Linked DNA regions of Homo sapiens. The protein of the gene in region 1 interacts with the protein of each later gene in a pairwise test. Each region holds a gene or a part of one and is shown on either strand. Other genes may lie near its edges.

Region 1 (3,500 bases):
CAGCTAATTTTTGTATTTTTAGTAGAGACGAGGTTTCACCATGTTGGCCAGGCTGGTCTTGAACTCCTCACCTCAGCCTCCCAAAGTACTGAGATTACAGGTGTGAGCCACCGCGCCCAGCCCTAGCTAATTTTTGTAGAGACGAGGTTTCATCATGTTGGCCAGGCTGGTCTCAAACTCCTGACCTCAGGTGATCCCCTCCCAACCCTGGTCTCGGCCTCCCAAAGTGCTGGGATTACAGGCATGAGCCACCACGCCTGGCCAATTTTGTGAAATAATATTTTCAATCCTCAGCTGGTCAAATTCAAGGATGCAGAACTGTGGCTACAGAGAGCCAACTCTGTAGTACCTTATTGTGGAGTTAAAGGCAGGGTAGGATACTCTGGACAGAGGTTTTCAGGATACCTCTGGAGCTCTCCCCACACCATTAATTGTGTTTGTGCTTTTGTATCTTTCTCTGTTTCTCTTTTTAGTCTAGTGGCAATACCAGTGTATGTGAAACATAGTATCAGCTTTAAGGAGAACAGTTCTTGCGGCAGATTTGATATAACAATTGGACCAAAGCAGAATATGGGGAAAACTATTGAAGGAATTACAGTGACAGTTCACATGCCAAAAGTTGTGCTGAACATGAACCTGACACCCACACAAGGCAGCTATACATTTGATCCAGTCACCAAGGTACAGCCACTTCAAATCAAGAGTGAGCAAGTGTTTCTGCAATCTATTTTGTGATTTGTGGGGAGGAATGGAGGGAAAGGTTTGGCACCTTGTTTAAAACTAAAGTTCGTATCAAAACCTAGAGAGCATACTGTGCTGTGCTTCTGCCACTGGCTGCAGAAGGAATCCTGCAGCTGCTACTGAGTAGATGAACAGAAAAATGTGTCATTCTGTCCTTTTTCAGAGTGTGCCTTCACTCATCCATTATTAATCCAGAGCCTGACTCTGCTATCTAATAAGAAAGAAGTAAAAGCTTTTTTAAAAAGAGAAAACATTATGTAGATTGAAGAAGATATTATGATGGTCTATGAATTACTAAGTTTTCTATATAAATTGATCACTAAGACCTTTTTCTTCCTTTATAATTTAAAAGCATTATTTCATACTCTTTCACAGGGCTAGGAAAGTTGCTTCCTCACTCTACTTAAATTTTTGTGTAACAGAGGGTTTTCAGAGAAACTGTAGCAGATGATTTTCTCTCAGCTTCCTGATTAGCTGGTAAATATGATTGTTTTCAATAGCAGAGTCATTGAGCTACCTGATAAATGAAAAGACATGTTTTTTGAATAACATCATAGAATGTTAAAGATTATTTAATACAGTTGTAAGGATTCAAAGAACCTCCTCCTGGAGACCACACAGGGCTGAGAAAGGGAGCTTCAGATTCCTGGCCCTTTACCACAGCTTCAACTATGACAGCTTTGCTTTCTTTCTCATCTGCTGTTGAGCCTTCACACCGAAGATTTCATTTGAACAATGGGTTTCACAGCTAAAAGTTTTAAAAACACCATCTTAAGTCAATCTAATTATTTTACAGAAAAATAAACAGAGGCTGGGCGCAGTGGCTTACGCCTGTAATCCCAGCACTTTGGGAGGCCGAGGTGGGTGGATCACCTGAGGTCAGGAGTTCGAGACCAGCCTGACCAACATGGAGAAACCCCATCTCTACTAAAACTACAAAATTAGCTGGGCATGGTGGCGCATGCCTGTATCCCAGCTGCTTGGGAGGCTGAGGCAGGAGCATCGCTTGAACCTGGGAGGCAGAGTTTGTGGTGAGCCAAGATTGCACCATTGCACTCCATCCTAGGCAACAAGAGTGAAACTCTGTCTCAAAAAAAAAAGAAAAAGAAACAGGCCCAGAGAAAAGTGAAGATGGTTATGATGGAGAACATTTGAAATCAGAGGGCCTTAGGTTCAAATCCCAGCCTTACCTCTGACTAACTATGTGACCTTGAGCGAGTCATTTGATCTCTGAGCCTTAATGTCCTCTGAGCTTTAATTTCCTCATTTGTAAATAGAAGACAAAAGCTACTTCACAGCCCTCAATGAGACAACATATGAATAATGCTAAGCACGGTGCTAATACAAAAGAAAATGCTCAACAAATGTAGATTCTCTGCTCTCACTCCCCATTCAAAGTCACAGAATTAATCAGAGGTAAACTCACTGTAGATGCCAGATCTCTTGTTTTCAAGAGACTGCACTTCAGTTTGTACAGAAGTTTATGATATCTTTGAACTTTGTTTTTGAGGGTTTGTCTTTAATAAATGGTTCTATTTGTTTTTCATTTTTTGTCTTTTTAAGGTACTAACATGGGATGTGGGAAAAATTACTCCACAAAAGCTCCCAAGTCTTAAAGGACTGGTAAATTTACAGTCTGGAGCCCCCAAACCAGAAGAGAATCCGAGCCTCAACATACAGTTTAAGATCCAGCAGCTTGCTATTTCAGGTAAGGATAAGGTTGACTTGTAGTTAAGGGTAATTGAGTTTTGCAAGCTCATTTATTAGGCATTTAGAAGAGTAACAAAAGTTTCCTTCTCTAGAAAGAGCAGTAGCCCATTTGCCTTTTATACTGTGCTTGGTGGGGCAGTCTCACAGGCACCGACCAAATGATTTTTCAGAGCACCTTATTTCAAACAGCTTCCCCTCACCTCCGCCCTCATTTAAGCACCAAAAAGAGAGTTATTCATATTCACAGAAAGTAGAATTATACTTCACAGACATTCCCTGCCTGTGTGGGAATCTTAACCAAAACCATACCATCAAAGTGCAATAATTTGTAAATGATAGAAGAGACATTTCTTCCAAATGGTGGAAGGGACACTGGTTAATGTCAGATTTACCATATAGCGCTCATTGCTAACATTATATTGGTTGGGATGATGATAATTTATTCTTTTTCATTCTTTTTGATACAGGCTTAAAAGTAAACCGTTTGGACATGTATGGGGAGAAATATAAGCCATTTAAAGGAGTCAAATACGTCACGAAAGCTGGAAAGTTCCAAGTGAGGACATGAGAAGAGGCCAAAATTCCTCAGGACCAGTTTGTTTTCCAAGTGTCATTACGATGTATCACTATTAGGTACCAAGTGAGTGGGAATACATATTCTAGTTAAAGCATTTGTGTCTAGCTACACACCGCTAACAAAGTTACTTAGTTATCAATGTAGGATTCTTAAGGAGCTTTAAGCTAAGGAAACCTTTTAGTGACTTAGCTTATTTTGTATCTTTTCACTTAGGAAGATTTTGGAGGTGATTTTTTTCCATAGGAGGATACCATCTGGCGGCTGCACATTGTAACAGTAAAGGCAGAAAGCTGTAGTGATAACCTCTCTCCTAAAAGAGTTAACTGGTCTCATCCAGCAGAAGCTATCTTAAATCTGTGATGTGTCAGGTGCAGCCAAATATCACACCTTCTGATCTTAGCCATCCCAAACCAGTATCTGTCCCGAGAGGAAATTCCCCCCACCCCCAGAAGTTTACAGAAAACTGCCTCTT
Region 2 (3,500 bases), on another chromosome or scaffold:
AGAATTTTAGTTTTTAATATTAAAGATTGAACAATACACTTATCCAAAAACATGCATGTAAAAAAATTTAAAAATTATTTAAGCATGCTTCTTTCTCAAATCTATCTTTCCAATGGGTATCATGTTATTATGGACCAAAATCTTAGCATAGGATAAAAATTATTGTGGTATGTTTCTGCCTGTGGCTGAAAAACCCTCTCATATAAGTTTTATATGCTTATTTTGTGTTTTAAACCATGTGCCAGGCAAAAAAAACAAATCACACTGGAATAATTACAACTAGAATGAAGCAGTATTATTTCTTTGTGAGTGCTGTAACTGATATTTAGTCAACAATAAATATAAACAATATTCCCATAAGTTTTTAATATATAGAGTCAGAGCTCATATACTAAATCCAAAATATATCAAATATAAATTTCTGAACATTCTTTTGAAATGGTTTTGCCTTTCAAAAACATGGCCTGAAATATGGAAAACTGTATAACTTTGGTTCATGAAAAAATAAAGGCCATTTCTGAGGGCTGAGAGAAATCAAGAGAGAGAAAAAGAATGGTACACTAAAATCAAAAAAGTGTGTTTTAAGAGATGCAAAAGATCAGAGTTTCCCTGGGCTCCACACAAATAGAAGGAACCAAAGCTCTCAAAAAGAGCACAAGTGAATGTTATGGACTGACTGACTGTGCCACTCCTTTCCCAGATCCGTACATTGATGCCCTAATTCCAATGTGGCAGTATTCGGAGGTAGGGCCTCTGAGAAATAACTAGGTTTAGACAAGGTCATGAGCACGGGAACCCTGTAATACGATTAGTGCCTTTATAATCAGAGAAAGAGACTGGAGTTAACTCGCTCCCTGCATTGTGAGGACACAGCAAGAAGGCAGCCATTTACAAGGCAAGAAGGGGGCCCTCACCAGAACCTGATCAGGCTGGCACTCTGGTCTTAGACTTCTAGGCTCCAGGAGTGTGAGAAATTAATTTCTGTTATTTGAGCTACCCAGTCTCTGTTATTTTGTTATGGCAGACTGAGCTGACTAATAATGTAGATCCACGCTGTTGGTATACAGCCCAAGTTATTAGAAATTAGCTACTCAAAATTCTGCAAATAAAATTCAACCAAGTATGAGCTTACAAAATTATTCTCAAACACATAATGGGAAATAAGAAGCCATGACTGAGGATGAGCTAATAAAATTAACAAATACCCTGAAGGACACTAGTTGTTATAATTAAAGGGTACAAAATATAACTATAAGTAAAGTATATAAGGAAATAACAGCTACAATAAAAAGATCAAACGACGTAAGGTTATAACATGAATCTGCAAATCTGAAAAAAATATATATTTAGAAATTTTAAAAATAAAATTATTGAAATTAAGAAATCAATGGATGGGTTAAATAGCATATGAGAAACAGCAAAATTCAGAGTAAATGAATTGGGAAATAAATCCGGAAAAAAAATGAAAAACATGATATGTTCTCACTCACAGGTGGGAGTTAAGCTACGAGGCTGCAAAGGCATAAGAATGATACAATGGACTTTGGGGACTTGGAGGAAAGGGTGGAATGGAAGTGGGGCGAGGGGTAAAAGACTACAGATTGGGTAAAGTGCATACTGCTTGGGTGATGGGTGCACCAAAATCTCAGAAATCACCACTAAAGAACTTACTCATGTAACCAAACACCACCTGTTCCGCAAAAACCTATGGAAATAAAAAATAAAAATAAATAAAGTACATATTTGAAAAAATTATCCCAACTATAGACAGATGAGGAACTGAACACAGTATAGGTGGTTAAAATTATAAAGGATACAATAAAAAAGTATATTTTCCTAATCAAAATTCCAGAAGAGAATGGAAATAAAAGATAGATGTAACATTCAAAGAATTAAGGGTTGAGAATGTACAGAAACTAGAAAATTTAAGACCTAGAACCACATGTTTGGAAAGAAAAATGTATACCAAACAGGATAAACAGTGGTGTCAATAAAAAGAAATTTTTACTTAGATGCATTTTAGTGAATTGCTGAGCAGCATTGGCAATAATAAGAATTATAAGAAAAAAAGGAGGGAAAAAAGAAAAATAAGGTTATTTATTTATATAGTGATAAATATGTGTTAGAAACACTAATAAGCTCTTTATATATATTTGATCTTCACTATGACTCATAAGATGACTACATTATCTCTAAAACACTTAAACAACATCACAGAGAAAATAAGTCACAGGGGTGAAATTTCTTCAAAGAGCTAATAGAAAATAATGTTACTCTGGAATTATCAAAAATCTCTCTCAAAACAAGAACAAGGCTGGGCATAGAGGCCCATGTCTGTAATTCCAGAACCTTCGGAGGCCAAGGCAGACAGATTACTTGAGGTCAGGAGTTCGAGACCAGCCTGGCCAACATGGTGAAACCATATCCCTACTAAAAATACAAAAATTAGCCGGATAGGGTAGTGGACACATGTAGCCCCAGCTACTTGGAAGGCTGAGGCAGGAGAATTGCCTGAACCCAGGAGGCAGAGGTTGCAGTGAGCCAAGATTGTGACACTGCACTCCAGCCTAGGCAACACAGCAAGACTCCACCTCAAAAAAAAAAAAAAGGAAGAAAAGAAACAAGAACAAGTATTAATGTTCCAACTAAACAAAGCAGTCCTCTCCTACAGAAATTACTAAGGATATATTTTAGGGACAGAAGATCTGAAAGGGAAGAAATAGTGAGCAAACAATTTGGTAAACATGTAAGTATATAGAAATATTTGTGTAGATAAATAAAATGCTTGCAAAAATAAAACAAAAATGCTTGTAAAAATAAAAAAAAACAATAATGATATAGTATTAATAAAGTTCATGTGCTATTAAGAAGAGAAGTAAAACCTTGATCAATTTAGGCTTTACTAAATTCAGTCAGCATGGTAAAATGTTAAGAGTGAGCACTATAAGAATAGTAATAGAGCATATGACTTCCAAACCAGTATAAGAAAAAAAGAAATGGGTAAGAAAAACTTACAATTATAAACATCTAATATATCTAAAAGAAAATAGGAAAGGAGGAAAAAAGCACTAGAATAAATGATACAAATAGAAAATGAATTTTAAAAATAAGTTTTTAGATAGAAATACAAACATATGAACAAATCCAACAAACACAAATAGACTAAAGTGGAAGCTAAAAGACATAAAAGACAAAGATTTTTCAGTTTGGCTAAAAAGAAACAAATTCAGCTATATGATTTTTACACGAGGCACACTAAACTTCTAAGGAGATACAAAGATTGAGAGTAAACAAAGCAAAGCAAAGCAAAGCAAAATGAAAAAGTACCAAAAAAAGTTACCTAGGCCAAAGGAAATGAAAATAAAGATGAGGGATAGGGCCAAGATGGCAGACGAGAAGCAGCTTGTATGTGCTGCTCTCACAGAGAGGAACTAAAAGGCTAGTCAACACTGACCCTGCAGGCCAATCATCTGAGAAACCATGCTGGGATCCATGAAGGC

The links. The genes of interacting proteins can lie anywhere in the genome.
Region 2: the proteins of AP3M1 (region 1) and SPAG16 interact in binary tests that used the Homo sapiens proteins (3 or more experiments, as listed by UniProt).

What each region holds. Positions count from the first base shown.
Region 1 is NC_000010.11:74,123,329-74,126,828, reverse strand, and holds part of AP3M1 (AP-3 complex subunit mu-1), read left to right. Parts: intron 1-473; coding exon 474-681; coding exon of another isoform or gene 682-703; intron 704-2,304; coding exon 2,305-2,449; intron 2,450-2,918; coding exon 2,919-3,019; 3' UTR 3,020-3,500. UniProt on the Homo sapiens protein: Part of the AP-3 complex, an adaptor-related complex which is not clathrin-associated. The complex is associated with the Golgi region as well as more peripheral structures.
Region 2 is NC_000002.12:213,924,464-213,927,963, reverse strand, and holds part of SPAG16 (sperm-associated antigen 16 protein), read right to left. Parts: intron 1-3,500. UniProt on the Homo sapiens protein: Necessary for sperm flagellar function. Plays a role in motile ciliogenesis. May help to recruit STK36 to the cilium or apical surface of the cell to initiate subsequent steps of construction of the central pair apparatus of motile cilia.